Linked DNA regions of Homo sapiens. The protein of the gene in region 1 interacts with the protein of each later gene in a pairwise test. Each region holds a gene or a part of one and is shown in the gene's direction. Other genes may lie near its edges. The genes, in order: HUNK, AGAP3, VSNL1, MTMR10, ZNF793, KDM6A and GEN1.

Evidence for each region.
Region 2: the proteins of HUNK (region 1) and AGAP3 interact in a two-hybrid assay, tested with the Homo sapiens proteins (one large-scale study listed by BioGRID and IntAct).
Region 3: the proteins of HUNK (region 1) and VSNL1 interact in a two-hybrid assay, tested with the Homo sapiens proteins (one large-scale study listed by BioGRID and IntAct).
Region 4: the proteins of HUNK (region 1) and MTMR10 interact in a two-hybrid assay, tested with the Homo sapiens proteins (one large-scale study listed by BioGRID and IntAct).
Region 5: the proteins of HUNK (region 1) and ZNF793 interact in a two-hybrid assay, tested with the Homo sapiens proteins (one large-scale study listed by BioGRID and IntAct).
Region 6: the proteins of HUNK (region 1) and KDM6A interact in a two-hybrid assay, tested with the Homo sapiens proteins (one large-scale study listed by BioGRID and IntAct).
Region 7: the proteins of HUNK (region 1) and GEN1 interact in a two-hybrid assay, tested with the Homo sapiens proteins (one large-scale study listed by BioGRID and IntAct).

The regions. Positions count from the first base shown.
Region 1 is NC_000021.9:31,879,117-31,883,183, forward strand, and holds part of HUNK (hormonally up-regulated neu tumor-associated kinase), read left to right. Parts: intron 1-4,067.
Region 2 is NC_000007.14:151,134,649-151,138,715, forward strand, and holds part of AGAP3 (arf-GAP with GTPase, ANK repeat and PH domain-containing protein 3), read left to right. Parts: intron 1-3,081; coding exon of another isoform or gene 3,082-3,092; exon of another isoform or gene 3,093-3,449; intron 3,450-3,494; coding exon 3,495-3,665; intron 3,666-4,067. UniProt on the Homo sapiens protein: GTPase-activating protein for the ADP ribosylation factor family. GTPase which may be involved in the degradation of expanded polyglutamine proteins through the ubiquitin-proteasome pathway.
Region 3 is NC_000002.12:17,648,315-17,652,381, forward strand, and holds part of VSNL1 (visinin-like protein 1), read left to right. Parts: exon of another isoform or gene 1-1,095; coding exon 1,096-1,311; intron 1,312-1,466; coding exon of another isoform or gene 1,467-1,696; intron 1,697-4,067.
Region 4 is NC_000015.10:30,988,829-30,993,053, reverse strand, and holds the start of MTMR10 (myotubularin-related protein 10), read left to right. Parts: upstream 1-1,425; 5' UTR 1,426-1,547; coding exon 1,548-1,607; intron 1,608-2,216; coding exon 2,217-2,277; intron 2,278-4,225.
Region 5 is NC_000019.10:37,505,463-37,510,148, forward strand, and holds the start of ZNF793 (zinc finger protein 793), read left to right. Parts: upstream 1-1,476; 5' UTR 1,477-1,504; exon of another isoform or gene 1,505-1,845; intron 1,846-2,802; 5' UTR 2,803-2,941; intron 2,942-4,686. UniProt on the Homo sapiens protein: May be involved in transcriptional regulation.
Region 6 is NC_000023.11:44,871,607-44,876,191, forward strand, and holds the start of KDM6A (lysine-specific demethylase 6A), read left to right. Parts: upstream 1-1,581; 5' UTR 1,582-1,945; coding exon 1,946-2,106; intron 2,107-2,317; coding exon 2,318-2,381; intron 2,382-2,569; exon of another isoform or gene 2,570-2,667; intron 2,668-4,585. UniProt on the Homo sapiens protein: Histone demethylase that specifically demethylates 'Lys-27' of histone H3, thereby playing a central role in histone code. Demethylates trimethylated and dimethylated but not monomethylated H3 'Lys-27'.
Region 7 is NC_000002.12:17,770,999-17,775,065, forward strand, and holds part of GEN1 (flap endonuclease GEN homolog 1), read left to right. Parts: exon of another isoform or gene 1-100; intron 101-197; coding exon 198-289; intron 290-296; exon of another isoform or gene 297-1,196; intron 1,197-1,635; coding exon 1,636-1,786; intron 1,787-2,097; coding exon 2,098-2,134; intron 2,135-2,220; coding exon 2,221-2,301; intron 2,302-3,272; coding exon 3,273-3,403; intron 3,404-4,067. UniProt on the Homo sapiens protein: Endonuclease which resolves Holliday junctions (HJs) by the introduction of symmetrically related cuts across the junction point, to produce nicked duplex products in which the nicks can be readily ligated.

The DNA.
Region 1 (4,067 bases):
CAAGAAATATGACTAATTTTAGAGGTGGCCTTTTGGCAGATCTGTTTTTAGCAAGTATTTCTGAAACAAACAGGTGCTAAATCCTGTATTTTTGAAGTGCTAGAAGTTTAGGGGTAATCGCTCTGAGGAACAAGAAATGCTTAGAGAACTGGAAATTCCTATTAATCCTTGGCAGGGACTTCTTGGCAAGAAGGAGGCATTTGCAAAGCACCTGCTTGGTGAGCCCTGTGTGACAAGGCAGTGCCTGTAATTTCGAGGATTGCATTCTGCAGTTGCAGGCGGATTCTTTTGAACTTCCTGCCCTGCCTCATCTTTTTGAAGTACTTGTGAATGATGGAAATTGGCACGTAGGGCCTGGTTCCTAGTGTTCATTGATACAGGTCCCACGGACTTCAAAGGGTGCTTTGAGTCAGCGCAACAGTGCAGAAACGGTGCCCACGGAGAGGAGTACAACCCTACATTTTCTCTGCAGGTGTTGAGTCACGGCTATAGCTACCCGTGCATACCAATCCGACTCAGGTCTGTGAGACTATAGAATTCTGCATGCTGCCAGCTATTGGAGGTCAGCGCGGCAATCATCTGTCCCAGGGTTTATCTGCCCAGAAGGGGTGGGGAGTGGCAGCCATGTGCCCCCGAAGAGAGGGACAGGTTGGGGTGTTCTCCATGGGAAGGAGGCTTGGGCACAGGGTTATCATTTGCCTTGGGACATATATTCCCTCTGTCGATTATTTATGGTAACGGAGAGACCTGCTCTCTTGGCTAATTGAAACCCGTAGATAATCCCCAGGCCTTATGTTAGCTGATGGGTGAAACTTCTTTCTCTACTCAGCCCTGGTCTAAGTACTGACCTGAATTGAATTTCACGCTTTCTGATAGGAGGTGCCACTGGGTGGTACGATGACCAGCAGGAAAGAGCTAGAAACACAGGGACTGAATAGTCCCCGAGGAGGGGGATGCCTCTGTGAATTCGAGACAGCTGTTCCCTCTCCTCCATCACCAGCACCAGCCCAGTGCTACAGTGTTTTACGGTTTTTTTCAGGGTGCCCCTCCCGTGCACATTCTTGTTAGATGCCTGCAGCAGCCCTGGTGGAGGGGGTAACAGCCAGCTTGCTGGTGTTCTTGCCTGCCTTGATTACGTAGAAGGGTGCCCTGAGTAGATCTTCTCTCTGACATTCTCTATGAGTTTGCTAGGATGGTTCTAACAAATTACCACACACTGTGTGGCTTCAACAACAGAAATTTATTCTGTCACAGTTCTGGAGGCTAGGATCCAAAACCAAGGTGTTGGCAGGGCCATGCTCCCTCTGCAGCCACAGGGAGAATCCTTCCTTGCCTCTTACTAGCTTCCGGTGGTGGCCAGCACTCTTTGGCATTTTCTGGCTTATGACTGCAGCGCTCTGTCTCTGCGTCTGTCTTCACACAGTGTTCCTCCCTCTGAGTGTCTCTTCTGTCTCTTAATCTTTTCCTATGTCTCTTTATAAGGACACCAGTCATGGGATGTAGGTCTACCCTAATCCAGTGTTGCCTCATTTTAACTCGATGACATCTACAAAGTCCCTATTTTCAAAGAAGATCATATCCACAGGTACCAACGGGACTTGAAGGTATCTTTTGGGGGAGCATAGTTCAAGCTCCAGCACCTTTTTAGACTGTCAGTATTGGGTTGTGGCAAGCGGATCTTGGGAAGGAGATGAATGTGCTTTTAGGGATTACTCTCAGAACTGACCTCTGCAAGGGAAGGGGCAAAGCAGCACTGGGCAGAGGGAGAAGCTGGGCTCCAATACCGCTCTCAGCCAAAGCCCCTGCCCATGCCGTGGTGAGTGCTGGAGCTGAGCTGGCCCTTCAGAGCTGACCAACTTGGGTTGAGAGGACTGGGATTTATATTTCCGCATCGGCCAGTCCTTGATGGGGGCTGCCCAGGCAAGGGGCATGGCCTCGTACGGGACAGTTGCTGAGGGCGGTTCCTGGGGAGAGCTCACAGCTGATAGCCTGCAGCTGAGGCAGTCAGTTCTTCAGCACTGACGGGGAATCTGGGGGTGCAGCCCAGCATTTGCTGTTTACTGAAAGAGACAGGGTCAGAGTCCAGGGCTTTTCATCTGAGTCCATACCATATGGACCGTAGACAACGTGGGCATCTTTTCCATGCGCATTTTGGATATGAGTGGTCATCATTTCCATGTGTTGGTATCAAGTCCTCTCATCTCGTTACCTTGAAATATACAAAGTATGGCCAGGCGTGGTGGCTCACGCGTGTAATCCCAGCACTTTGGGAGGCCGAGGGAGGCAGATCACCTGAGGTCAGGAGTTTGAGACCAGCCTGGCCAACATGGTGAAACCCTGTCTCTACTAAAAATACAAAAAAATTAGCCAAGTGTGTGTTCCTGTAATCCCAGCTACTCGGGAGGCTGAGGCAGGAGAGTCGCTTGAACCAAGGAGGTGGAGGTTGCAGTGAGCCGAGATTGTGCCACTGCACTCCAGCCTGGGTAACAAGAGCAAAAACTCCATAACAACAGCAGCAGCAACAACAACAACAACAACAACAAAGAAATATACAAATTATTGCTGCTAAATATAGTCCCCGTAGCAAACATTAGCATTTAGTCCTTCTATCTATGTATGTTTGTACCCATGAACCAGCTTCTCTTCAGCCTGCCCTACCTTGCTGCTCGACTGTGGTCTCTCTCCCTGCAATGAGGGAGCAGCCGGCGTGGCATCTCATTAGCAGATTCTATGTGCCACACGCTGGGGGATTTTCTGGCCTCACATTTCTCTTAGGTTAGAATCATCAGGGCTCTGTTGTGTTTCTCAGTACTTACAAGATTGAAAGCTCACTTTATATGTATGCTCTATGGGTTTTTTCCTGAGAACTCTGGGGCAACTGAGTGTTGGGCCAAGTTGTGGGCCAGCATGCCTACTTCAGAGACGGTGGCACTTTCCTGGGAAGAGACCCCCCCTCCCCCATCACTCGTGAGTGGTGGGAAAAGTTGTTGAAGGAGTTGTGGGAATTTGGATTTTTGATGAGTAGAGTAACAGTTTGGGACATTCTCATGGACAAAAAAAACTACTCAGGGTAGAGCCATCTGTTAACATCCTCTTAGCACTCTTACGGTGGCCACTGTGCCCTAGCTATGCAACTTCTAATCACTGGGTTCTTTTTGGTTTTTAATCATCTTTGTGTTTTCAAGATGCATTTGGTTAAGTTTTGGAATTGGTAATACAGACACATGGTCTGAAATTCAAAGGTTCTGAGAGGGTTTGCAGTGAGAGGTAACTGCTTCTTATCTGGGCTCTTCAGTTCCTGGATCTTCTCGTGAGAGGTCACTCCTCCTTCTAGTCCTTGTGTATCCCTCCAGAGATACCCTATATGCATAGAGACCCACATACATATTTGTAAATGCGTAGTTAGGGGCAGATTTTTCTTCTTTATTGATACATAATATTTTACATATTTATGGGGTACATGTGAGTGTTCCATGCATGGAGTGTGTAATGATCAAGCCAGAGTATCGGCGTGTCCATCACCTAAGTATTCATTTCCACGGGTTGGTATTATATCAAGTCCTCTGTTCTAGTTACCTTGAAATATACAAAGTATTGCTACTAAGTATAGTCACCCTAACAGACATTAGAATTTAGTTCTTCTATCTATGTATGTTTGTACCCATGAACCAGCTTCTCTTCATCCATCCCTCCCACCCACCAGGGCAGATGTATTTTTAAACTGTACATGCTGTTCATTATCTTGCTTTTTCACTTAGCAATATGTCTTGAGCATTCTTCCCCATGACTACTACAGAATTGCCTCACTCTTTATGTTAATTAGTTATTGCATAGTAGTCATTGTGTGGAAGTATCATGTTGACTTAACCATCCCTTGTTGATGGACATTTAGGGAGTACATAATTTTTTTTTTTTTGTTATTCTCAAACCATACTTCAGTAAATATCCATGACCATTTGTCACTTTGTAAATGTGACCCCTCAGTGTATCTGAGGGGTAAATTCCTAGTCTTAGGCCAAAAGGTATGTCTATTTTAACTGTTGATAAGTATTGCCAAATTGCCTGCC
Region 2 (4,067 bases), on another chromosome or scaffold:
TCTCAGCCTGGGCACAGGGTGCTGGCCAGCATCACACTTCAAGGTCATCTCAGCCAAAGACATGTGCCCTAACGCAGCCCTCGTGGAGTTAGTTGAGGTGACAGCAAATGCCTAGACGAGCAGTTGATCTGGATGTCAGATGGGGCCAAGTAGTGTCATGTTTGGGCAGTGGTGCTGGTGGTCCTAGGCCCATCTCTGCATCTGGATCCGAGGCAGGCGATGGGTGGGGGCCATGCCTCTGGGTGCATGGCCGGCATCTCAGCCAAGGTTGGCATATGGAGATAGGGGAGGTGGAAGGGGACGGAGCTGTCTGAGGTCAACCTGGTGCATATTCTCAGGCCTGAGTGAGAGGCGGGTCTCTGCTCAGAGAGGACTGAATTTAGACAGGATCTGGAGGCAAGAAACTCCAGTGAAGAGCTGTTGCGTTCTTGCCTTTTCAACTGACAGTGCTGGCTCAGGTGAAAGGCCTCCTGTCCCCAGCAACTCCCTAGTGCCGCTTCATTCCTCCTCCTTTGGGCCCCCAGGCCCCATGCTCTTCCAGGGTCCGTCCTTCCACACCCGTTTCCCTCGCTTCCAGAGCCCCTGGCTCCCGATTGCTTTCCCCCAAGACTTCAGTATCCCCAGTGTTGTCCTAGACCATTGGATCTCATGTTCCCTGGGCCCAGTAACAGCTGCCCTGCTGGTGCCATTCCTGTGCCCTGTCCCAGCAGTCAGCGCTTGGCAGCACAGGTCTGCAGCTGGGTGAGTCACCTCCCTAGAGGGCCTGTGCTTGTCACAGTGAGGGGAGGATGTGACAGACTTAGTGGACAGGTGGTTGGGGATACGACATCCAGTCCCCTGGAATGGATGGGAGAGACCCCAAACAATAAAGAATTGTCCCACTCACAAGGCTGATGGGACTCCGCTGAGAAAGCCCAGGTTAGAGGGAAGGAAGGCGCAATGATGCCTCCAGGTGTGGTCCTTGTTGGAGGCAAGGCACCTGAACCAGGTGTGCTGGGCCCACTCTCGCAGAAACACCGTGGACCAGCCCGAAGGCAGGGGAGTGGCCAGGGGGAGGGGCCTGACACAACTGAGATGTACCCTATGCAGTGGATGTCTCTGCATCAGGTCCCAGGTCCTCAGCAGCTGTGAAGTAGAGATTATTGTCCCCATTTTAATGAGGAAACAGAGGCTTGGCATAGCTAACAAACTTGTCTGTAAATTCCACAGTAAGTGGGAGACCTAGGGTTCAACCTAACTGTGTCTGACTTGAAGAGCAATCTTCTTTCCTCTAAGCCACCCTGAGCTCAGAAAGGAAGCCTGTGAGGTGGATGGAGGGAAGGAAGGAAGCTAAGAAGGAGAAGGCCGGCCACCACCCATCATGGGGCTGTGCCAGTGGGGGACCTTGAGCCTGCCGTGGGGTTGTACTGGCCTGATGGCAGGTCACATGCAGTCTTCAGTGCTCTGCCCGGAGAGCGGGTCAGAGCTGCGGGGAGCCCTCTGGCACCGGCCCCCAGGAGCCCCTTTGGTCAGCTTGGGGTTTCTCTTATCATTCCAAAAATGAGGAGCAGGCCCAAGTGAGTCCCTTTCCTTGACAGCAGGGAGCCAGAGGACAGCTGGGCTGTTTCCCTAGAGCAAGGGAAACGAGAAGACGCTGTCCTGTCCCGTTCCTGTCCCTGACATCCCTCACCTGGGAGCGGCAGTGGCATGGAGGAGACAGCCCCGTGCCCTCGCTCCTGTAATGACAGCGCCCACACGCAGGAGCTCGCGGACGGTGCCCACCCAGCCCGCGTCCCGCTGCCGCATGCCGACGCCGACACCGACCCTCGTGCACACTCACACATGTCTCTCACTCACCGGGCGATGTTAACATCTCATTATCTTTGTTACTGTAATTACATTATCCGCTGCTTTATGCAGAATTATCCTCCGAGGACTAATTGATGGCTCCATGTTTAATTCATTAATCATTAGCATCAAATTCGACAATTACAGTGCACACTGATTGTGGGATTGCAGGCGTAATGAGGGGAGAATTAACAAAGAAAAGGGAAAGCACTTTCCCTCCCTCAGGATTTTGGGTCGGGGGCTTGGGGAGGAAGTTGGGCCTGTGATGTCTTTGGATGGGGCTAGGGATGAGGGGGAATAAGATTTGGAACCTGGAAGGGAATGAAAGCAGGGGTGAGGAGAAGCAAGGTATCTGAGAAATGAGGGACCAAGTGTGCACCCCGGAAGGTTTCCTGAGGCGGGACCTGTGAGGGCAGAGGACGGGAGGTGGGTGGGATTCTGAAGAGGCAGCCTCTACATGTTTCTTCGGGGCCTGGAGATGGAGACCGGCCTGTAGCCTCTGTGCTGCACGTATGTGACTAAGCACTTACTATGTGTCTGGTCCTCTTTGGGGTGTTGTGACAGATACAAGAGGAACATAAAACTTGCTCCCTGCCTTTGGGCGTCTCCCAGCAGCAGAGCTGTGGCCCCTTGGGCCATTCCTTTACCTTCCAGCTGCTGCAGCCTGGTGCCGTCTCCCCGCAGGCTTCCCCTCAGTCCCGCCGCCTGCAGGGCTGGTGTGAGACCTGGCGCCTGCCCTTCCCCTGGCTGGGCCTCTGCCTGCTGTCTCCAGCTTTGGCCAGCTCCGGGCCCCTTCTCTGCTTTCCCACTAACCTCCAGCACCTGGCGGGCTCCTCCGCTTCAAGGTTGAAGCACCTCAGGTTCGGCCCCCGTGTTCTTAGACCGCCTGGGGCCATTTCTTTGTGGTCTCAGTGTTGGGTGGACTGAAGAAGGGGAAGGAAGCTTAGGTTCTCGGAGTTCCAACTCAGGCCTTGTACCACAGGCCTCTGAGGCCCCACGGCTGTTCCCAGAATCTCTCCAGCAGGGGCTCAGCCAGGGAGTGAGGTGGGAGAATTGTGCGGCGCTCTGTCCTCCCTCCACTGCCGGCCGCCGCGCCTGCCCCAGCCTTGGCTTTCCTAGAGCCTTCGGTTCCCCCTGGCTCTGCCATTCTTCCCTGATGGGAAACGAAAGATTAATTTTCTCCAGCCCAACAGGATAATTACTAATACTAATTAGACATAATTACTTGAATTTGATACACTTATTTCTCGTCAGAATGGCAGTAAAGCTGAGGCGAAGCAAATGGCATATGTGGACTAGAATGGAGGGTGCAGGGGCCCAAGCCAGGAGGGGCCCCTCAAGGAGCACTGCGGCGATGGGTGTCAGCACCACCCAGCTCGTTCCACAAGTTGGAAGATCTCTGATGCAGAGACCCCCCGCCCCGCTCCCGGACCACAGTGAGGGGACAGAGCTGTGGACCGTGAAGATCTGGGGACAGGCTGCTTCCTAAGGCACACAGGGTCCCTGCGCAGCCTCTGGCTCTCCCAGAAGCTGGCCCGCCACCTGATGAACCCAGTGCCCTGCTGAATGTCTCAGGCTCTGCTCTGCAGCTCTATTTTTAGGATAGTATCTTTGAGAATCCTCCCCTGCCCGGCCTCCCTTCCCAGTCTGACCCTTCCCGCCCCCAGGTGCCCCCCACTCGGCCAGCAGCGCATCCCTGCACTCTGAGCGCCCCCTCAGCAGCTCGGCCTGGGCTGGCCCGCGCCCTGAGGGGCTGCACCAGCGCTCCTGCTCCGTTTCCAGCGCCGACCAGTGGAGTGAGGCCACCACTTCCCTGCCCCCAGGCATGCAGCACCCTGGTGAGTGGTGGCTCTGCTGCTTCCCACCTTTTCTGGGGCCCCAGTGACAGAGAGGAGGGGAACTGGGCAGCATTCTTGGCTTGGGAGGCTGCAGTGGGACAGTGTCCAGGCCAAGGGGTGGGGCCCAGCTGGGCCCTCCTGGGCTTGTCAGAGAGACCCTGCTTCGGGGCTAGTACTGACGTTGTCTTGGAAGCAGAGTAGGGGCACTGTCCCTTCTCCAGCCTCCATGTGCAGCCCTTTTCCCCAGAGCCCCCATCTGCCTGCAGCCCTGCCTGGGGCCGGCGCTAGAGGCCCACCCTCTGCAGCTCCTCCTCCCCTTTGTCCCCAGGCGGCGCTGGTGGTGGCTCCCGCATCCCCATCAGCCCCCCGCGCAGTTAGCTCATCAGCCTCTCGGCAGGGGGA
Region 3 (4,067 bases), on another chromosome or scaffold:
GGTCAGGATGCACAGTGAGAAAGACGGACCGAGGGCTCCTCGAGGTAGATAGCCCAGAGTGGGCAAAGAGGCCATCTGTATGAAGGCTGCTCACCTGGTCCACTTAGCAGGTGCAAAACTTACGAAGGAAAAGGGATATCAATGAGCAACCTCAGTAATCTTCTATAGACCTTGTAGTGCTTGCCTATAGAGCCCAGAACCCAGATTTATTCATCCAGAAATACATACGTAACTTCTCTGCTTTAAAATAGCACATGGTTTGTTTTTGGTTGTATTTGGGGCTTTGCAGTTCTTCCTTGTTAATTATCAGAACTACCTGCTGTTTGTGACTGGCCTAGGCTTATGTCCAAGGGGACTGAGGCCACCACCTACTGATTCCCCATGGCCTTCCCTCCTTGTGGTCTATGCTTCCCTTTCCTCCTTGTGTCCATTCTCTGCCTCCCACACACCCCTGGTGACAGTTGGCTCTGTGAAGAAACCTCTTTATGTCTCTCAAAAATAAGCCCAGTCATGTTCTATTTTTAATGAGTTTTAAATGTCTGTTCTGCAAAAGAAAAGTCCCTGCAAAAAGAAGTTAGAAACTGGAACCTCACCCAGGGAGGGGATAAGTGTGGGCCCAGGACGAGGGCTGGTGGCAGGAGAAACCAGGTCTGGGCACCCTCCCTCTGGCCCTACTGGGCAGCGATGAAGCCAGATTCTCATATCTAGAGGAACATTGAAGTTCGTGTAGCACCACCTGTGTGGGGAGAGAAACTGCTGTCTGCCTCAGTCCTGTTCCTGGGGGGAGTGAGCTGAGATGCTGCAACACTAGCATCAGGTGGTGCTTGTTGACCGATTCCAAGCCCCATCAACTGAAAGCCACATGTCACCAGCCTCACCCACAGGAAACAATGAGATGCCTGTACCTGAGCACCTGCTGTGAGAAAGCCTCCCCTAATGCCTGCCCTTGCCCTTGACAGTCAGGCCAAACTGCTCTCCAATGGGTGAGGCTCCGACAACGCCCAGGAGCACCTGTGATGCCGTCATTAGGAACCTACCTCGTCGCCCCGATTCCATCCCCTCCCGACACCTGACTGCGCGTGTTCTCCTTTGCAGTTCTTTCCTTATGGAGACGCCTCCAAGTTTGCCCAGCATGCCTTCCGAACCTTCGACAAGAATGGGGACGGCACCATTGACTTCCGAGAGTTCATCTGCGCTCTGTCCATCACCTCCAGGGGCAGCTTTGAGCAGAAGCTGAACTGGGCCTTCAATATGTATGACCTGGATGGTGATGGCAAGATCACCCGAGTGGAGATGCTGGAGATCATCGAGGTGAGGCCCGGGGTGTGGTTGGCGGGTGGTGGGCACAGAAGGAGACCCCACGGCAGCCTCCTAGGTGCAGGCCTTAGTGGCTTCTTCTCTCTCTGCTCGAGCCCTGCCAGCTGCACACCACGCCTGGACTTCTCCTGCTTCTGTCCCCGCTGCAGCACAGTGCTGGGGAGGTCCCAGAACCAAGCCATGGGGCCCGTACTGTCGTGACGGTGGCATTGTCATCTGCCATTCACTCACTACTGGATCTCCCACGAACCTGTCTTACTGTGCACACAGGATGTCATGGGCTGTTTCTCTGGCACTTGGTGTATCTCTGCTCTGCCTCACTCCAGCTGCGCCTAGTGGGGACCCGAGGCTGTCAGGGGCTCCCGGGACATCCTTCCAGGTTCTGGTCATTCCACAGCAAGCAGGCTTTGCCCATTGTGTTTGTGAGTAACCCAGGATTCCTCTGCCACGCCACCCACTGCGTACTGCATTCCCAATGTGAAGGTCTTCTTGGTTTTCTTCTAATGCCCGGTTCCACTTCAGGGCCTTCCACTTCCTCTCTCTCTGCCCAGCATGCCCTCCCCTGGCCTCTGGGGGCTCCTCCCTCACTTTGCTCCCATCTCTGGTCTTATCCCATCTCCCAGAGAGGTCTTCCTTCCTGCATACCTTCCCAAATATGCCCACTCCACCCTCACACCAAAGCAATCTAACCCTTACCAAGAGGGGTTTTGTCCCAACATCTGTCCCTGCCCCAGATTAACTTGTTGAGTGGAATATATGGCAGAATGCAAGCTCTCTGAGGAGGCTCTGCCCTCACGGCTGCATGCCCAGAACCCAGACCCAGCCTGGAGCCTGGCAGGCATGCAATAGCAGATGCATGGTTCGGTAGCTTTCCTTTGATTGACTGTCTTAGCATGGGTTCCCACCCCTGCACCAGCCACTCTGACCAAGGAGAGAAAGGTATCACTTGCTGAAGGTAGAGCCAGGTGCTCCATCCTGGAGCTGGGGGGATGCCCCATCCAGACACCAAGAGCTGAGATCAGGCAGGGTGGATCCCCACAAGAAAATGGGATGATTGCAAGAAACAGAAGCCAAAGCCCCAAGTTCCCCTCAGGACTCTCACTCTCCTCCCAGCCTCAGAGAGAAGTCACCCATCAACTCCCTGCCTGGGAAGCTGGCCTCGTTCACTTGCACACCCTCTCATTCCACATCTTCAGTCTCTTCTTCTCCGTTGGCTTCTCCCCTTCTATCTTCAATGCCCACTCCCTTTCAAATATACCCAGCAAACTAACATCTTAGTTCTTTACTTGTGTTCCCTTCATTCAATTGAATATATATTTTTTCCAGCAGGTTATCAGAAAAGATACAGCACAATAATTCTGAACATGTGGCTTGATTTTCTCATCTTTCTCACTCTTTAATCTTTTGTCCATCTTCCACACTTAACTTGGCTCCCTCCAAGGTCTCTCTATAAGCTCCCTACAGAGTAGGTTTTTCCAAGTTTTTTCTCCTCTTTGACTTCTTGTCATTTCCCCTCATTGGCCACCAAAACCCTTCCTCTCCAAAACTTTTCTCTCTAATCCTTGTCAATGCCCTTCAGCCAAAGTCCCCAAGGACATACCCACACTTACACAAGTTGACTTTATTACTGCTTGCAGTGAGGGAATCTTGGGGCAATTCAGCAGGAGGGTGTTAGAAAGGACTTCTAGGATCTGGACTTTGGGAGGGTGATTTGGGGAGGGTTCGGAGAAGCAGAGGTTTACTGTGGATTGGTTACTGTCAGGGAGTGGGGACACTTCTATGATTAGATACCTAGGAGGAGGGCACACAGACCAATGCAATGCTCTTAACGGGTGAAGAAGCAGTGGTCACTCACCATAGCAGGAAGCAGGGATGCTTGGTGTTTTGTGTCTGTGTTCAGACTTAATGACAGAGTGGTCTTGTTTTTGCCTTGCTCCATCATGGTCACTGGCATTTTGTGACATTGGTTATGTTTGGTGTGAGACCTGACTGTGAGGGCTGGGCCAGCTCCCGGCAGCACCAAGGCCCGGTGGGCAGTCCGGGCCATTTCCTGGCTGTCAGCGGCTGCTTTTCTTTCTCTTAGTTCTTCCACGTTTCTCCCCATCACTTCTAGCTCTTCCTTTCTTCTATTCAGAGCTTTTATGGATTGATTTCTCACCTGATTATGGGTCACATTTTCCTGCTTCGTGACACGTGTAATAATTTTTATTGGTTCCTGGACATTATGAATGTTGCATTAGAGTGTCTGTATTTTGTTGTCTTCATTTATAGAGTGCTGAGATTAGTTTTGACAGGCAGGTAAGTTATATGTAAATTAGCGTGATCTTTTCGAGGCAGTTTTATAATTTTAAGCTTTTAGAGCAGATGGAGAGTAGGTTTTCTGTAGTAAGTTAGCCCAGTGCCCAATTTGTGACCATTTTGGGGTTCTTACTGATTTTCTCATACATTTAGTGAGGTTTCTCTACTCTGGCTGGTGGGAACCAGCCCCATGTGTTGTGATACTTATTCAGGTATTTAAGTGAAAGAGGACATATCAGAGTATAACTAGACAGAGAATATAAATAGAAAAGAGGTTTCCAGAGGACTGAGGTCCTGGGGCAACCTGATGTTTAGAGGTGAGGAACATGAGGCACAATCAGTAAAGGAGATGGAGAAAGAATTGCCAGAAAGGTCAAAGTAAAAAAGGAAAAGTGAGAAGTCCTGGAAGGGAAACACACTGTTTTGTGGGGAAGGAATGGAATGTGCAATCA
Region 4 (4,225 bases), on another chromosome or scaffold:
CTAATACAACCAGATATCTGGGAAATGCCATAAAATTTAGTGTTAAGACAATAATAAATCTGGAAATAGAGTTTTTCCACTTTTCAGTTGTATGGTCACATATTAGAATTGCAGATCCTAAGAAAACCTGTACAGAAAAACCCAAATCACAGAGTCATTTAAGTGTAAAGAAAAAGCCAATTATTGCTTAAAGAGTATTTGTAGAAAATATCCGTTGAATATAGAGGAATAACAGCATATTCATAAAAATTTTTTAAAAAGTGTGCACGACAGTGATTTTAACACTTCTAATCCAATGGAACTAACATTTTAAAGTACAATTATGGCCAGGCACGGTGCCTCATGCCCATAGTCCCGGCTACTTGAGAGGCTAAGGCACGTGGATCACTTGAGCCCAGGAGGTGGAGGCAGCAGTGAGCCCTGATCATGCCACTGCACTTCAGCCCAGGTGATGGTGTGAGACCCTGACTCTAAAAAATACAATTATGGTTACGGTTCTTGGGCAGAGTGGAATTCAAACAGGTTAACCTGAAAGATCAGTAGGGTTCTAAATCCAGGATAAATTATTTTCAGAAAAAGAATAACTTTTTGAATCTTTATTTAAATTGTTAAATGTTCCTGTGAGTAACACTCATCAGCGTGATTGTGACTGGTATGGCTGCATGGAAGCTTCCCTGTGGCATTAATCATAAAATGCTGGATTGGGGTTTGATTCTTCAAGGTATAAGAAGGACCTAGTCTCAAGTAATAGATTCACCAAAATGTAACACCACTAGCCCCCTCCCACCAAAATCTGCTCCAGTCAGAATTACCGTAAGAGCTCAGAAGTGACCTGTGCTTGGCGGCACCGGCCCACTTTCCCAGTGCCGGTTCCTCGCATCCTGGGCGCAGACGGGGTGACCGCCTGACCCCTGGACCCGAGTCACCTTTCCCTGCCCTGAGCTCCTCCTTGAGAGCTTCAAAACAATGCTCGCCCAGGCCGGAGGGCGAAGTCGGCCCATGTGTAAGTCAAGGGAACTGTCCCAGGACTGCAGCCCGGCCAGAAGACGCCCCGCGCCGCCGTCCCAGGCAGCCACCGCTGCCGCCGTGGCCCCCGCAGGCCGCCGTAGGCCCCCGCGGGCCGCCTGACCCCTGCGGGCCGCCGTAGAAGGACCCTCCAGAGGCCGCGCTCTTGAGATGGCCGTCGGGCTCCGCTCCCCGCGGCGCCCCGGCTGAGGGCCCGCCAGCGGGCACCTGGCGCCACCGCTGCGTTCCGGCACTAGCACGGGACACGGTCAGGGAGCGGCGGGCCGCGGCCTTGCGCGCGCCGTCTCTCGGGGCGGGGCACCGGGCCCCTTCCGGGGATGGGCCCCGGCGCCCGCGTCGGCCTGGCTGTGCCCGGCCCCTCCCCGCTCGGGCGGGCGCTGCGCCGTATCCCCGCCCGTCAGTCCGCCCGGCTCGGCTGGCCGCAGAAAGGGCCTGGGCGGCCGCACTGAGAGCTTTACGCCCGGAGGCGTCGGCGCTGCCACTGGCCCGCGACGGGAACGGGGCGAAAAGGCGGCGGCACCATGTTCTCCCTCAAGCCGCCCAAACCCACCTTCAGGTCCTACCTCCTGCCACCGCCCCAGGTAAACAACCCCTCCCCGCGAGCGCCCGACTCTCCTCTGCGCTTCCGTGGAGCCTCCAGGCCGACCCCCGGGAACTGGAGGACCCCAGGAGGCTGCGCGCGTCTCCCTGCCCACAGCAGCGCGGCTGCCTGATTCCCGGCGCCGCGAAATGCGCCTTCTCGGGAGCCCCCACTGGCTCGGCGAAAACTTGTAAAACTCTTCTGCAGCCATTCTCTGCCCGAAGTTCTGTCGTCCGTAGTTTTGCGGAGTGTTGAGGCCCAGGGGAGCCTTGGGAGCTGGGGTTTTCTTTAGTTTCCAACCCATCGACCCTCCCTCGTATGACCGCCAGCATGATTGCAGCGCTTGGGGTCACTGGTCGAGGCGGTTACCCGTCTGTCATAAATGTGAACACCTGGAAGCGACACTGGCAGTTTAAACATTTTTTATTATTAGGCTTCCAAGTCGATAATGAGCAGATCTTAAAAACAGCTCAGTTAATATGCGAAAGAATTTAAATGGGGGGCTGTGTGTCTTTCGCATGTGTCATCACTTAGAAAACAACATTTGCTGTAGCATTTTACGGAGGGTGGGGGGATTGAGATTTTGATTTATTTTGCTAATGTATTTCAGACTGACGATAAGATCAATTCGGAACCGAAGATTAAAAAACTGGAGCCAGTCCTTTTGCCAGGTAAACATTAGTTAGGATTCTAACAGATACTTTAGCAACGTATTTTGGTTTAAGATTATTCTGCCGACTAGTATCATGTGGTTAACTTCCCTTCTCTCATTAAACTTTCTCCAGTTAAAAGTCTAGTGACTGAGAGGAGAAAAAGGAACTGTCAAGAATGTCATTACCTCATTTCCTTTTTTGTCTCCCGAATTTCTTTTTGAAAAGATGTATATGTTTAATTGCTTGGGTAGTAAAAGTACTCTTTGCTGACGTGTTTGCCACTTATTGCATTAATGATTAATCATTTTAATGCATTTTGATAGTATAAAAAGACGCCTTTATTATGTGTGTGTCTCTATACCAATAACAGAGCTTAGTGAACTTTGAATTACTTGCTTGGCAATTGTTTTTTGAAGTTGTCAGCTGTATTTGCAAATTTGCTTGTTTCAGTTTAGAACCAGGCTTTTCCCAGCAGAGACACTTAATTGACATTTGGGGCCAGATAATTCATAGTTGGACGGGCAGGCTGTCCTGTGTATAGCAACAAAGATGGCCTCCACCCACTAGATGCCAGTAGTAGTACCCTTATCCCCCACCACCTAGTTGCGACCTAGTTGCCACACCAAAATGCCACCAGTCATTGCCAATTTTTTTTTGTCCCCTACCTCTGGGGGACAAAAATCTCACAGTTGAGAATCACTGCTTTAGAACAAAATTTGCTATAGGTGACCTTAGAGATGGAAGTAGGGATTGGTGGTAGAAAGGGGTTTGTTTTAGAGCATACAGAATATTGGTATGGTATTTTGAATTGTATAACAATTGTATAATAATTAGGAAAAGTCAGTTGTTTAATGCGATTATTAGGGGAAGTAGCCAGATACTTAGGAAAGCCTGTTTTAAACCTGAAATCGGCCGGGCACGGTGGCTCATGCCTGTAATCCCAGCACTTTGGGAGGCCGAGGCGGGTGGATCACGTGGTCAAGAGACCGAGACCATCCTGGCTAACACGGTGAAACCCCATCTCTACTAAAAATACAAAAAAAAATTAGCCAGGCATGGTGGCGGGCGCCTGTAGTCCCAGCTACTCGGGAGGCTGAGGCAGGAGAATGGCATGAACTCGGGAGGCGGAGCTTGCAGTGAGCCGAGATCCTGCCACTGCAGTCCAGCCTGGGCGGCAGAGTGAGACACCGTCTCAAAAAAAAAAAAAACCTGAAATCAAATACTAGTTTGTGTGGCTACTATCAGCATTGCAAAATCTGACTCATTACTTAAAGCCAAATCGGTAAAATAATTAGAATTTTGTAGGTAAAAATTGAACAAATGTGGAAACTTTAAAATTTTAAATATTATATAGGGACAAAATATTAAAAACACCAAACTTTGGTTCCATATGAAAGTTTAAAAAGTGTTTTTTAAACTTTACTATGGGAGTCATAAATATTTTCCCTTGATTTTGTTAGTGCTTTTCACTCAACAGTGTGTACTAATTAATCATTTGTACTTTTCCTCAGAGTGAACAGTAGAATTACTAAGTAACCCTTGCTCCCTGTGTGCTCTGTTTTAGTCTTAGTCACTCTGAGCATTTAAAATGCAGGGACGAGGAAACAGTACTCATCTTGAATGAGTGCCTATGAGCTATTGAACTTTGACTTCGTTTACTCTGAACAGGCCTGGTTCTTAGGCTTTGATTCCTCCACTCTGCATACTATGATTTCACACTCAGAAACAACATGGTCTTAGCTGTAAATGTCAGTGCTTGCTTTTTAATTTTTTAAAATTTTTTTTAAATTTTTTTTTTTTTTTTTTTGAGACAGAGTCTCACTCTTACTTGGGCTGGAGTGCAGTGGCGTGATCTCGGCTCACTGCAACCTCTGCCTCCCAGGTTCAAGCGATTCTCCTGCCTCTGTCTCCCAAGTAGCTGGGATTACAGGAGCCCACCACCACACCTGGCTAATTTTTCGTATTT
Region 5 (4,686 bases), on another chromosome or scaffold:
CCAGGCTATTGGGTGGAGGGCTTAGTTCCTTGCTACCTGGGCCTCTCCATAGGCTGTCTCGGTATCCTCATGACATGGCAACTAACTTCTCTCAAAGTGGGGGCAGCAGCCTTTAAGACAGAACTCAAGGTGCCATTTATTATATTTAATCTCAGCAGTGACATCTATCACTGCTACTGCATTCTATTAGTCTCACAGTCCAACCCTGGTACAATGTGGGAGGGAACTACATAAGAGTGTGAATAGTAGGAGGTAGGAATCATTGGGAAACATTTTGAGGTCAGTTATTGTATCAGTTGCTAGGATGACCAGTTGGAATTAGGATTTTTTTAAAAAGCCATTTTCATAAGACAAGGCAATCTTTTCTAGAGATGTTCCAATACCTGTGATATGCGGAGCACTGCGCTAGGTGGTATTCAAGGCAGGCCTGTAGTGAATGCTGTTGGACCCAGCCACCACCCCTGAGCAATCATATGCAGACCGCTGGCTTCTTAACTGCAGACACCTACAGACTCAGCCTAAGACTTTCCCACGAGGCAGGCTCGAAGTGCTGGAGCTTTAACACCTCTGGAGTGGCCCTAAAACAATTAGGAAGAGAGATGGTGTAGACATATGTAAGCTTCATCGGCCTGGTGGTTGTGAAAACTTGGAAGTGGTTTCTACACAATCCCCCAGAGGTCCCAAGCTGACTGAGCCCTCATTGATCCAGAGCTAATCTGCTCACCTATGCACTGTATATTCGTTCCCATCGCTCCCGTCTCACTTCTCCATCCCCCACCTACCAAATAAACTGCTTGCACTCATTCTTTCCTCAGGTCGGCTTCTCGGGCAAGCCTCCTTAGGTAAAAACCTTGCTTTCAACATTTCCTTTCCATTATGCGCTAAGAACTCTGATCTCTTCCCGCTGCGGCAGCCCCGCCCTTTCCTTGCGGCTCCGCCCTTTCCGTGAAGTCACGCCCGTCCTTAGGCTGTCTCTGTCTCCCTAAGAGCGAGTCTCTTCGCTGCTCTCTAACTCCTAGAGCTGGCTCAGAAAGAGTTTCACATTGCCATAGGGGAGCTCCTAGGAGAGGCTGCACCCATTGCACGTAAGAAGCGGTAAAAATGTACGCGGCCATCTTACCAGGCTGCCGGAGACAAAGAAAGCTCAGCTTTGATGTCTGGGCGCCACCATGTTGGCCACAGGAGGTTTTGGCATCTGAGATGCTGAGTTAAGAGCAGAGACGACATCTCTGTTTAGGGATCCAGGGACACTTCCTTCTCCTTGTCCTAAAATAGCCTTATCTTTTGGTCTAGCAAAGGGCTTAATCATCCGTTTTACGGCACAGTTTTAAACATGGCCGCCCCAGGTAGGAGTCAAGTGGGCGTCGCCATCATACCTCCAATTACAGCTTTGAGAAACCCAGAATCCTGTTCACTGGAAGGTTGCCGGGTGGCGGCTGACAGCCTCAAAGTCGCAATTGAGTCTGCGCACCGGCCATTCAGGATGGGACGACCTTATACCGCGGTGAGGCGGCGTGGCAGGACGACCAATTTCAGATTCAGGGCGCGGATGCAGCATAAATGGGAAGGCACGGTTTGAGAAACGGTCAAACCTGGGACTAGTGGAGGATAGTGAGCTGCCGACTACGGTGGCCGACTGGGTCAGCTATGGGTGCCCGTGAGGGTCAATGACAAGGGAACTGAAGGGTTAAGAGATTCGGCGTCTGAGCCTCGCGGGGCCTCAGTGGTGGCGGACAGAGGTTTGCGGGAGTCAGTGGCACGGTCTCTGAAGAAGATGGATTGGGAGTGTGTGGGAATCAATAAATGCGAGTTCTGTGAAATGTCTTGATTTTCAGGGTGCATGGGGTCAGTAATAGTGGTCTTCATGGGTCTGGGGTCAGTTGGGATTTTTCAGACACTGGTTTAGAGATCTTTAAGGTTAATGATCGGAGCCCGAGAGGATCAGTGATCGGAGGTTCTAAGTTCTGTGGGCAGTAATAGTTTGGGTACTGGAATTGGTGATTGTGGAAACTTTGGGGTTCAAATGAGGGAGGTCAGTGGTGATGAATGTTTGGAGAAATGTTTTGGGCCATCGGTGATTGAGACTTACTTCATATCATCGGTGGAGGATCGGAGAGTATTAACGATTGGACTTTTGTAGATCAGGGAATGGAGAATAGAGTCAAGTGTGCTTATCTTAAAGGTACGCCTCAATGAGGCTCAGTGATTCGGACTGTCACTTGTGGGTGGGAGTGGGACTGTGAGAATCAACAATTGATCCTCAGTCGTTGGGATATCATTGGCAATCAGTGTGGATTCATGATTGGGGGCTGTGTAATTTCACTGGCAATCAGATCGGATCGGTGTTCTTTGTAGTTACTGACCTGTAGTCTCTCCTGGTCAGATTTGAACATAGGGGAATATCAGTGACTATGAAAACCTCTGAGGGTTGGAGATTGGAGGCCAGTGATTGGGGGCACTATGCGTGTCTGATTAGGAGACTTATAGGGGTTGGTGTTGAGGGTCCTGAAATGTGGAGATTGGGGATGGGAAAATCACAGATTTGAGGCTGCAAGCCTGCATAGCGGGAACACATTTCACTCAGGTGACACTCCCTAGCTGAATAGCAGCCAGTTCCTCTCCACCAAGGCCCATCTGAAAACTCTTTTTTGAACCCACACCCTTTTTATTGTTCTCTACAATAATGAAAATAATTTGAAAGGATCGCGTGCTAAACTTATCTAAAGTAACATGTTACTAAAGACGTGGCTTCTATTCTTGTTAGGGATCTAATGCATATTTTTTCCTAATGTTTCCTTTAAGGCTCTTTCTGGCAAAGGTAATGACATACGCATCTGTGCCAGCATCCCAAGAGTGAGGCTGGTTTCTGGAAATCCATTCTGACTCTGTGACAGCGGGGATGGATGTGACCTTGCCCGTGGTTAGAAAACAAATTTACTGAGTAAGTATCTAAAATGATAATGTAGGCTGTGTGCAGTGGTTCATGCCTGTAATCCCAGCACTTTGGGAGGCTGAGGTGGGTGGATCATTTGAAGTCAGGAATTACTAGCCTGGTCAACATGGTGAAACCCTGCCTCTACTAAAAACACAAAAATTAGCCGGGCGTGGTGGCGGGCGCCTGAGGTCCCAGCTACTCTGGAGGCTGAGGCAGGAGAATCGTTTGAACCCAAGAGGTGGAGATTGCAGTGAAACGAGATTGTACCACTGCACTCCAGCCCGGGTGACAGAATGAGACTCTGTCTCAAGATAAATAAATAAATATAAATAAACAAAATAAAATAAAATGATAATGTAAAAGATTTGGCTGAAAGAGCAAACAGAGTGTTTAGAAAATACTTTTATCTAGGCTCAACTTAAATTATCAAAGGAAGAGAAACTAGATTTGGAATTTATTGTATTCTGAGAAACTTTTTGCCTTGTCCTATATATTTTAGGCATAGCCATTTTTAACCTCCACTAATCAATTCCTTATAAAGTCCTGGCAGAAAAAATTCAAGACAGATAAAGCCACAACCGCCACAAAACAAAATGTAAGCTACTTTTAGAAACTGTTCCTCACTGAAATTAAAATTGAACTAATAGTTATTAAAATGGCTGAGATGGGATTGCAAATAAAATGGAAATAAGATTTGAAAAAATAGATTTAGGGGATATAAGTGCAGTTTTGTTACATGGGTATATTTCACAGTGGGGAAGCCTGGGCTTTTAGTGTAACTATCACTTGAATAATGTACATTGTACCAATCTGATAATTTCTCATCCCTTACCCGCTTCCTACCCTCCCTCCATTCAGAGTCATCTGTGTCTATTATTCTGCTTTCTATATCCATGTGTACACATTATTATCTTATAAGTGAGAACATGCAGTATTTGACTTTCTATTTCTGAGTTAGAAAATAAGATTTTGACCATTAATGAAAAAGTGCAATGTCAAAACAATATTTTAATTTTAAAAAATTATTACGTTTGATCTTTATGTAACCTTCAGACAAAGCACAATGCCTGTAGCATCTTAAGAAATAAAGGCAGCTGGATGCTAAGGCAGGTAACATCTTTCAGAACCCACATAGGTCAAATTTTAGTTTTAAAAGCAGATAGTCCCTGTTTTTCACTTGCACAGAATCAAAGACAGATAGCTGCTTAGCATGGGTGAAATAATAAGCCAGGGTAAGGAGTTTGGGTAATTTTTTCTCCATGTTGATTCCCTTCACCACCTATACTGTGCTCAGTGCCAGGTTTCAGAGCAAATAATTAAAAAGAAATTTTACATAAACTTTTTATTGTGATATATATGCAAAAATGTATATAAATATGTAGCTCAATGAATTGTCACAAGGGAATACCCCTGGGTAATGCACTCAGATCAGAAAACAACATTCTAGCACCGTGCCCTCATGATGCCCCTCCCAGTCACTACTCTGCCAGAGGTTCCCTAGCTTCTAATCTTAGTATTGTCTGTTTTTGATCTCTAATTTAATGGGATATTCATTGGGGGGGAGGAGCACCATGGGGAGAGGCAAGATGTGGCTGTGTTTAAACAAAATTTCCAAGTTTGAATTGAGATAATTTCATTTATATAACAGATACTTTTCCAGGTCATTAAATATTCCTTGTTTGGCCAGGCACAGTGGCTTACACCTGTAATCTCAGTGCTTTGGAAGGCTGGGGTAGGAGGGTTGTTTGAGG
Region 6 (4,585 bases), on another chromosome or scaffold:
GGAAAGGTGTTTCAGAGGAAGTAATTAAACATGAACTATAATCTATACAAAACTACAGTTTGTTCGTCTAGTTACTAGTCTCAGGGGAACAATTTAAAACTGTGTGCAAAATCAGTTGGGATTCCCATAGCTTCCCGCTGAATACTGGTAGGAATTACTGGGTCAGCACTGAATTGTCTTCGTCATATTTTGAAATCCAAGTTTAAATATATAATTTTTATTGGTTACAGGTGGAAAACCTATTGAAAATATAAAAAACTCCGTTTATAAACAGAATCTTGTCCTTATATGTCTATCAATTTTTTCCTATCCCTGTTATAAGACATACAGCTTAGTAAATAAATTTGCCTTTTGAGAAGAGTAGTCGAAAGGCCTATTTTTTTTTCACCTATAGTAAAGATTAAAAGTCAGACTAAAGCCTTTCCCCTGCACCTGAGAGACAGAACAACAAAATGTTACTGTTGTCTAGGGGTTACAAACCTGCAGGTTTTGGGGGATAGAAAGGATTTCTTGGGCCACCAGCTGTGATGATTTAATTATGTCTTCTCTCAGGTCTGTCCACAAGCAGCCCCTACTTTTGTAAGAAGGCTCCACTGAAATCATGGCAATAGAACCCAACATTCTGCAGATCCCGCTTCACAATTTCTCATTGCTTTTTCTTGTAAGACTGTAATGAACTACTGATAAGACACAGGGTAAACACAGCACGAAAATCTGGCCCCAAAGTGCCGCCAACAGACAGACCTTTGGCGGTGGGGAGCCATGGTCGGCAAGCCAGGCCCCGCGGGCGACTCTTCATTCCCTCCGGCCTGGGGCGTATGGGCGGGGGTCAGGGGAGCCCTTCCCCCTTCACTTTCGGCGCGGGTGAGGTGATCGGGGCTGCCAGCGCAGGTCTGGCCTAGGGCGGCACCCGGACCGCGGGGCACGGGACCGGCAGCCGCTCCCCGAGCGCCCTCCTCGCGGAGGCCATTATTTCCAGCAGTGCCAAAAGTCTGAGCCTTCTTCGGAGGGCAGAGGTCGAGGGCCGTGCGCCGCCTCCCGGCTACGCGACCTGTACCAGGCCCTGTGGGGTCCCGGGACCCCTGGAGCGCGCGCGGGACGGCCGGAGCCGCGGTCTGGGCACATCCCAGAGCTCGCGGGCAGGCAAATGCCGTCCTTGGCGTCTTCGCCCGCCGCTCGCGCCCGCCGCGGGCGGTGCCGGACCTCGCCCTTCCCCACCACTCCCCTCCCCCTCCAGAGCCCGCCGCGGTTCCCGAGGTGACACGGCCCGGACCCTCCATTCTCTGCCCCAGTGTATTTAACCAGCACAACCTAACAGGAAGCTCCCTCTCGGTGACAACCCTTCCCCCGACAGACGCGCCCAGCAGCCAACCACCGGCTAGAATTGGCCTGCGTCCCGCTCCCATCTCGGTGGCGGCCTCGGTGGGCGGGGCTCGGGCAGCTAGCAAGTTAAGTGGAGCCACGGCTGACGTGAGTCAACAAAGGTCACGTGAGGCGTGCGGGCCGCGCCGATTGGTGGCGCCAGCCGGGCGGGGAGGGGGGGTCACGGCGGCGGCGTGGGGTTCGCTGTGTGACACAATTACAACAACTTTGTGCTGGTGCCGGGGAAGTTTGTGTCTCCAACGAATCCCCTCAGTGCTCCCCAGCCCCGCGCGCTCCGGCCGTTCCCGCCGTCCCCGCCTGTGGCTGCCCCCTGCCCAACCCCGCGATGTGACCCTACAGCCGAAAGCCGCCGCTGCCGACCCGGGGGCTCCGCAGCCCCTGCCGCCGCCGCCGCCGCCTTCACCGCCGCCGCGTTGGGATTTTTCGTCGCCGCCGCCCGCGGCGGAGGAGGAGGCGGCGATAAAGTTGGTGTGCTGGTCCCGCGCGCAGATTGGGGGCGTCACTGCGGGCCCCGGTCCGAGGGGGGGTGTCGGCGTTGGAGTTGTGAATTCGCTGCGTTTCCATGAAATCCTGCGGAGTGTCGCTCGCTACCGCCGCCGCTGCCGCCGCCGCTTTCGGTGATGAGGAAAAGAAAATGGCGGCGGGAAAAGCGAGCGGCGAGAGCGAGGAGGCGTCCCCCAGCCTGACAGCCGAGGAGAGGGAGGCGCTCGGCGGACTGGACAGGTACGGGCCGCCGTCACTCGCCCGGTCGGCTCCGGACGGGCAGTAGCCGCTCTCCCGGGAGGACCGAGCGCGGCTTGTCTCTGGCGGCGGCGGGGCGGGCACCTCGGTTTGGCGCTCTTCGCGCCGCCTCCGCTGGGGCCTCGGGCTCGGGCAGGGACGGGTCGGTGGCGTTCCCTGAGCGTTAACGAGTAAACTGTGTCTGTCTCCACAGCCGCCTCTTTGGGTTCGTGAGATTTCATGAAGATGGCGCCAGGACGAAGGCCCTACTGGGCAAGGTAAGGCAGCTGCGAGTCGGAGCGCGGACACCGTCTCCCTGGCCGGCGCCGCGCTCGCCCCGGGCCCCGCGGCCGGGTCTGTGCTCATTGTGGCCACGGACGATGGTCGAGGGGCTTCCGGAAACTATTTCCTGCCTCTGCTCTCCCCCCACCCCCGGGTACCCTGCTTGCTCCCTTGCGAAATCGCTCTTTTCCTCTTGTAGCTGGAGGAACAGAGACGGGATCGCTTTGGGGCCGGGCTCAACTGGGTCGACACAACTGCCTGCTATTTTACAGCTTTTTGAGGGTAGGCCGATGATCTTCGAGGTGCCTGTTTAGGGTCAAGGGATCGTGAGTGTGTTCAGATTTTCCCAAATTTCGGACTTAACTTGCCTCTACGGGTTTAAAAAAATTCTTTTCCTTCAAGCAGGCTGTTCGTGATGCCTACTGCTAACCAAATGTTTTAGGCTTTCTTGTGTCCCCGCTCCCAGAAGGGGGAAGTTTCACGGAGTTTAGGTCGGTGAAGAGTTTGCATTGGGCTGTTGACATGTATCTCGATTGCAGTGTGTGTTACCTGAAGTTAGGTGACTTGTTTACTTTTTGGGTCTTTTTGGCATAGAAATACCGTAGTTATTTGTAAACGTGTTCTCTTCCTGGAGCCTCATTTCCTGTGTGTCTGACAGGGGAGGCTGGGGAGGATTCGGGGTGTAGTCTTTTTTTATTTGTGTGGAAAGTTGTTGGCACTGTCATTTAGTTAAGTAATGGCTGCTCCTATCGGCCCAAGATGGCGGGACAGGGTGGGAGGAGAAAGTGAAGGGGGGGGTTAGGGGGAGGGTGTAGAGGTAAACATGGAAATAAATAGTAGCCGTGAATAAGCCTTTCCTTCGGAGTGTGTAGCTCAGTGGTGTTTAAAAAAAATTACCCAAGATTATTTGCATATAGAATTCTTATACCTTTCATAAGCTTGGAAGCAGCATGCATAAGCCTGGTAAATGCTTATCAACCTGTAGCACATTTAGTTATCCATCTGTAAGCTATTGAACAAAGGCTGGAGTCTCAATCTGTATGCATCAGTTTATATTTCCTGACCAAAATCTGATTGCAATGGTATTTGAATACTTTCTTCGTAATTGGGACCGTGAAAGTTGGAGTGTGTGCTATGGGTGTTGTATCCGTTAGACATTTTCTTTTCTAGCTGAAATCATAGCTTTGCATTTGACACCTAGCTTTATTGTTGCAGTTGAGACGCAAGTTTGAAATAAGTCTAACATTTTATTCTTAAGTTGATTTTTTTGTTGTTCTGAATTTTTGTCTGTAGCTTGGTTTCGCAGAGTCATCAATTCCTTTTTATCTGTAATTACACATTTGTTTTTATTTCAAAGTAATTATAAGGTGTTATATTGCATATAATCAGAAAACTAAATGGAAATAATGCTTTTCAGTAAGCCCGGCCCCTTTGACCGATACAGAAAACTTGAATTAAACTTTGACTACGTAGGTATTAATTGGCTTCATTACAATTATTGCTGTAAAAATGAACAGTGACTAGCTCTGGAAAGATTTAAGCGTCAGTAATTGTTGGTCTCCTGCCTTAAAGTTTTTTTTTTTTTTTCCAATTTGAGTATTTAAAGTATTTTATTTAAAAATATTTGACTGCTGTCAAAGTTGTCATTATAAAAGATTAAACATGATTTAAATTAAAAGAGCATTATTTTGTTTTGGAGGGATTATTGTTGGTCTAACATGGGTTAATAAAATTGCTTGCAAAGATAATTCACGTGGAAAAGTTTGGCCAAATCGATTGCTTTTGGTTATGGTGATGAAAAAATAAATGGAATCTGATGTTTTATGTTGAGAATGTGTAAAATGCTAGTTGATTTTATGTCTTAGAATGCTCATATTCATATAGATTCACTGCGAATAGTGCTTAACATTGGATTTCGGATTGTAATATTAAACCCTGCAGTTATGCACTAACGAGTTTAAATTTTAAAAAAGTAACCATTTTCAAATATTCTTGGCAAGTTGTGCATTACTTGATGTTTGAATACATCTTAAAAATGAAAAACTAGTGAAGCTTCACTATGTTTGGGGCCTTCATGATATATGGGGTAATTTGATGAACGATTAAGCAGTTTGTTAAACTAAAGAAAAAAAAATCTTCACTGCTTCAGACTCAGTGCTTGTGAGGTGTCCTACCTGCTTAGGACAAGATTCATCAGCCT
Region 7 (4,067 bases), on another chromosome or scaffold:
TGCTGTCCTTGGGCCTTGGGGCCACATTTAAAGCTTGTGACTGAGGGTTTTCCCACACTAGGCCAGCAACTTTATCAGCCACCAAAGGGAAAATAATTAGGTAGGTGAAAGGGAATAGATCAGCCTGATATTTGAGAACATACCGTTTTTGTGACCTCATTTTTTTTCCTTTTTTTAAAAACCACTTTCTATTAAAGGTTTAATCGGTGGAATGAAACATCTTGTAACTCTAGTCCACAACTGCTAGTCACTAAAAAACTGGCTCATTGTTCCGTATGTTCCCATCCAGGTAAGGAGACATAGGGAATGGTTATTAGTATCTCATACCCATGTTTTAATTCTTGTTCACATAGTACTTTTTACATGCCAATATTAATAATACTTTGAAGGGTTTTACATTGTCTTCTCCACTAGATTAGGAATTCCTTGCAGTCAGTTTTGTTATATACACATAGTAGTCACTCAGTAAATGTTTATTGAAACCAATAATGTGATGTAGATGATAAATATAAGTACAGTTTCAAACTATGATACCAAATTACTTAGATCTTAAAACTATGTTTTCAATATAGAAATCCATTTTAAGAAAAAAATATATACTAATAAGTCTTAGGGAAAATGGAACTGAAACCATTTGTTAATATATTGGTGATTTATATTTATCTACTTAAATGATTCTTCATTGTCCTGTAATGCATTTTGTGTGTGAAGACAGTGACTTAAAACTAATTTCTAATACATGTTCACTATTCTTGAAAATAGCTTGGATCTTCTTCATTAGTCTTGGTTTAAAAAAAAAAAAGACACTACGGAACACGTACTGGATCAGAAAGGCCTTTCATTCCCAAAAGAGATTAGGATATCATGTTAACTCATCTTTTAAAAGAAATTCTGCTATATCTAGTTGTCTTAATATATTTTTATTAACATTATTAAATTATAGATAAAATCATGGAAGAAAATCAATGTTTTTATAAATAAGATGCTATTGTATAGTTTTTTGATAACTTATAAATGACAATTTTAGGTCATATCAAGTATATGTGCTCTTACATATTCTCAAGACAATGTTGAAAGTAATCACACTTTGCTTTTAAAGGGAATTAAATTTCCACACCCGTGCCACAGTCATCATTTGTTCATGTTCCAAGGATAGTTTAAAAATAACTGTAACTGAGAGCTAGACACTAGCAGAGGTAATTAACTGCTATATTCTTTTAATACACTCGTTAAAGAAACTATTCTATTAGAGCTATTCTATTAAGTAAATAATCTTTTTTGCTAGTAATTACATCCTACTTTTTATGCATGTAGCTTCCACCTAAACCAGAAAGTTTTCTGTTGTTGATTATTGTAAATGTATAATTTCAAGTGTCTAATTAACACTTTCAGATAGAAGAATAATTTTTTCTAAAGTGTCATGTGATAGTAATAGCTCAAGATCTACTTGAGCCCAAGAATTACTATGGTGTCTATTACTCTATTCATCCTAAATGTATTGAAACCTTTCTATATGCTAGGTAGTGTGCTAGGCAATATTAATTTTGGAAAATTTAGATACTGGCAAAAAGAATGTATGTAGAAAGTAATTATAAAAGGCAAAAAATATTATACTTTTTTTGGGTCTCCATAAAGGTTCACCTAAGGATCATGAACGTAATGGATGCAGATTATGTAAAAGTGATAAATATTGTGAGCCACATGACTATGAATACTGCTGTCCTTGTGAGTGGCACCGTACAGAACATGATAGGCAACTCAGTGAAGTAGAGAACAATATTAAGAAGTAAGTTTTTTTAAAAACTCATGATTTTTCCTGGCATGACCTATACACATACCTTTGGTTGAATTATTTCCATATAATCTTTCCCCATATCTAGATTAGTCACATGTTTAACTAAATTTTTTTTTCATTTCTGTTCAAAAATTTAGCTAACCTAGGAGATAGTAATGTAATAGTTATTCAAAGGGAAGCTTGACTGTTTGGGATACTGTAAATTCACATTTCTTATTAAATGGGAGGAGATTGGCTGAGATGATTTCAGAGTCTAAAATTGTCTGATTATAGTAATAACATGTATATAATTTTTTTTTCAGGAAAGCTTGCTGTTGTGAGGGATTCCCATTCCATGAGGTAATATCCAGTAATTCAACTCTATTAATTTTAGAAACTTTCTTAAAAGTTTAAATCTCAGTTTCTATTTTCTTTTTTCTTGCTAGGTTATTCAAGAATTCCTTTTAAACAAGGATAAATTGGTGAAGGTTATCAGGTACCAAAGACCTGATTTGTTATTGTTTCAGGTATCTGAAAATAAATTCTTCTTTACTGTATGAAGTTATATGCTGGAAAGATAGGAACAGATATTCACTCTGATTGGTCTTAGAGGAGGTTTAAAATTAAAACAGGCAGCTCTTATATTTTTTCAGCATTTATTTCTACTCTCTCATTTGCCATACAGTGGCCATCTTTGCACACTATAAGACAAAGTATAGTTATGCTGTTTTAGAAGATGCCTTAATTAGCATATGTGGATATATTGCATCCATGGATATTTTGGGGGAAGAGGGTTTAATAACAAGAGAATGTTAAGATCAAGTATATAATTATGGAAGGTAGTATCATTTACAAAAACATTGATATCTGAAATTAATGACCTAAATTTAAATTTGGACCGTATTCCACCTACTGTGTGACCCTGGATGTGTGTTATTCTCAAAACAGAAATAATATTACTTATCTCATAAAGTCACCATGAGGATTAAATGAGATTATTTATATTAACTCCTAATATAGTGGCTAGGGACACGGAGTGGCTCAATAAATTGCAACAACTGGGTACTTACAAGTACCAGCTGTAAGTAATGACAGCCACATTAAGAACGACAGCCACATTAATAATGACAGCCAACATTTGTTAGACATTTAAATTTGCTGTTATGTTTAATGCATTGCATGTAATCTCAATCTTTGTAATCTGTGAAGTGGGTTGTAATATTTTCACATTACAGATGGTAAAACTGAGGCTAAGAGAGTTTAAGTAAGTTACCCAACATCTAAGAAATATCATCCTGGCGTTCAAACCGAGAGCCTTCACTCTTAATCATTATGCAATAATGATTCTTCCTTAGGAGGCTCATTGTTTCTAGAATATTCTCATTGATACTACTTTAACTTACGTTAATTCTAAAGGAAAAAATATTAATATCACCTAGGAGTGCTATTTGTCTCCAAGAGATAACAAAATCTTGTTTTATTTTTATTATATTTATAGAGATTTACTCTTGAAAAAATGGAGTGGCCCAATCACTATGCATGTGAGAAATTGCTGGTACTTTTGACCCATTATGACATGATAGAAAGAAAGCTTGGTAGCAGAAACTCTAATCAACTACAGCCAATTCGGTAATGTAAAGAACTGTATGGTGAAGGTGGTGTTTTTACTTGAGTATTTTATAATTAAAATATTCCTAATATCTTTAAGCTCGTTTTTGTAAAGGTGGAGGAAAGGCCTCCTGGAATATTAAAAGCTTATTCAGGGCTTATAATCAGAACAACATAGTAAGTCATGCTTTATCATACTTTTCTACTTCAAACACATAGTAATAATAGATTATAAAAAGAAACAAGCATAAAAGGATATAGCCAGGCTTTATAAGACAACTATTTCAGTGGACCAGAAAAGGAACAAACGTGTTAAGGGAATGTGGGAACTAAAACTGGTTTTGCAGAGCCTTAAATCTAGAAGCAGCCGTATCATCCAGGAGGTAAATCGCTTCAGAGAAAAAAAAAAAAATGGGGACCAAAAGTGCAAGATGTTGATGGAGTCAGGCTTATTTCTTGAAACCCAGTAGCTAGGGTGGAATTTCTCTGTTCCTATCAGGAGATTAGAGGCTGGGGTAGATAATAAAAAACTAACCAAATGCTGCCTGAAGCCCAGAAAGCCCACTGGAAATTACTCAAAGAGACTAGAGAGATAGAAGTGAAGACAGATAAAATATAAAAGAATTGAAGAAGAAAGCTTAACATATAAAGAAATATAATATTTTTAAAATCAACAATTGCGTCA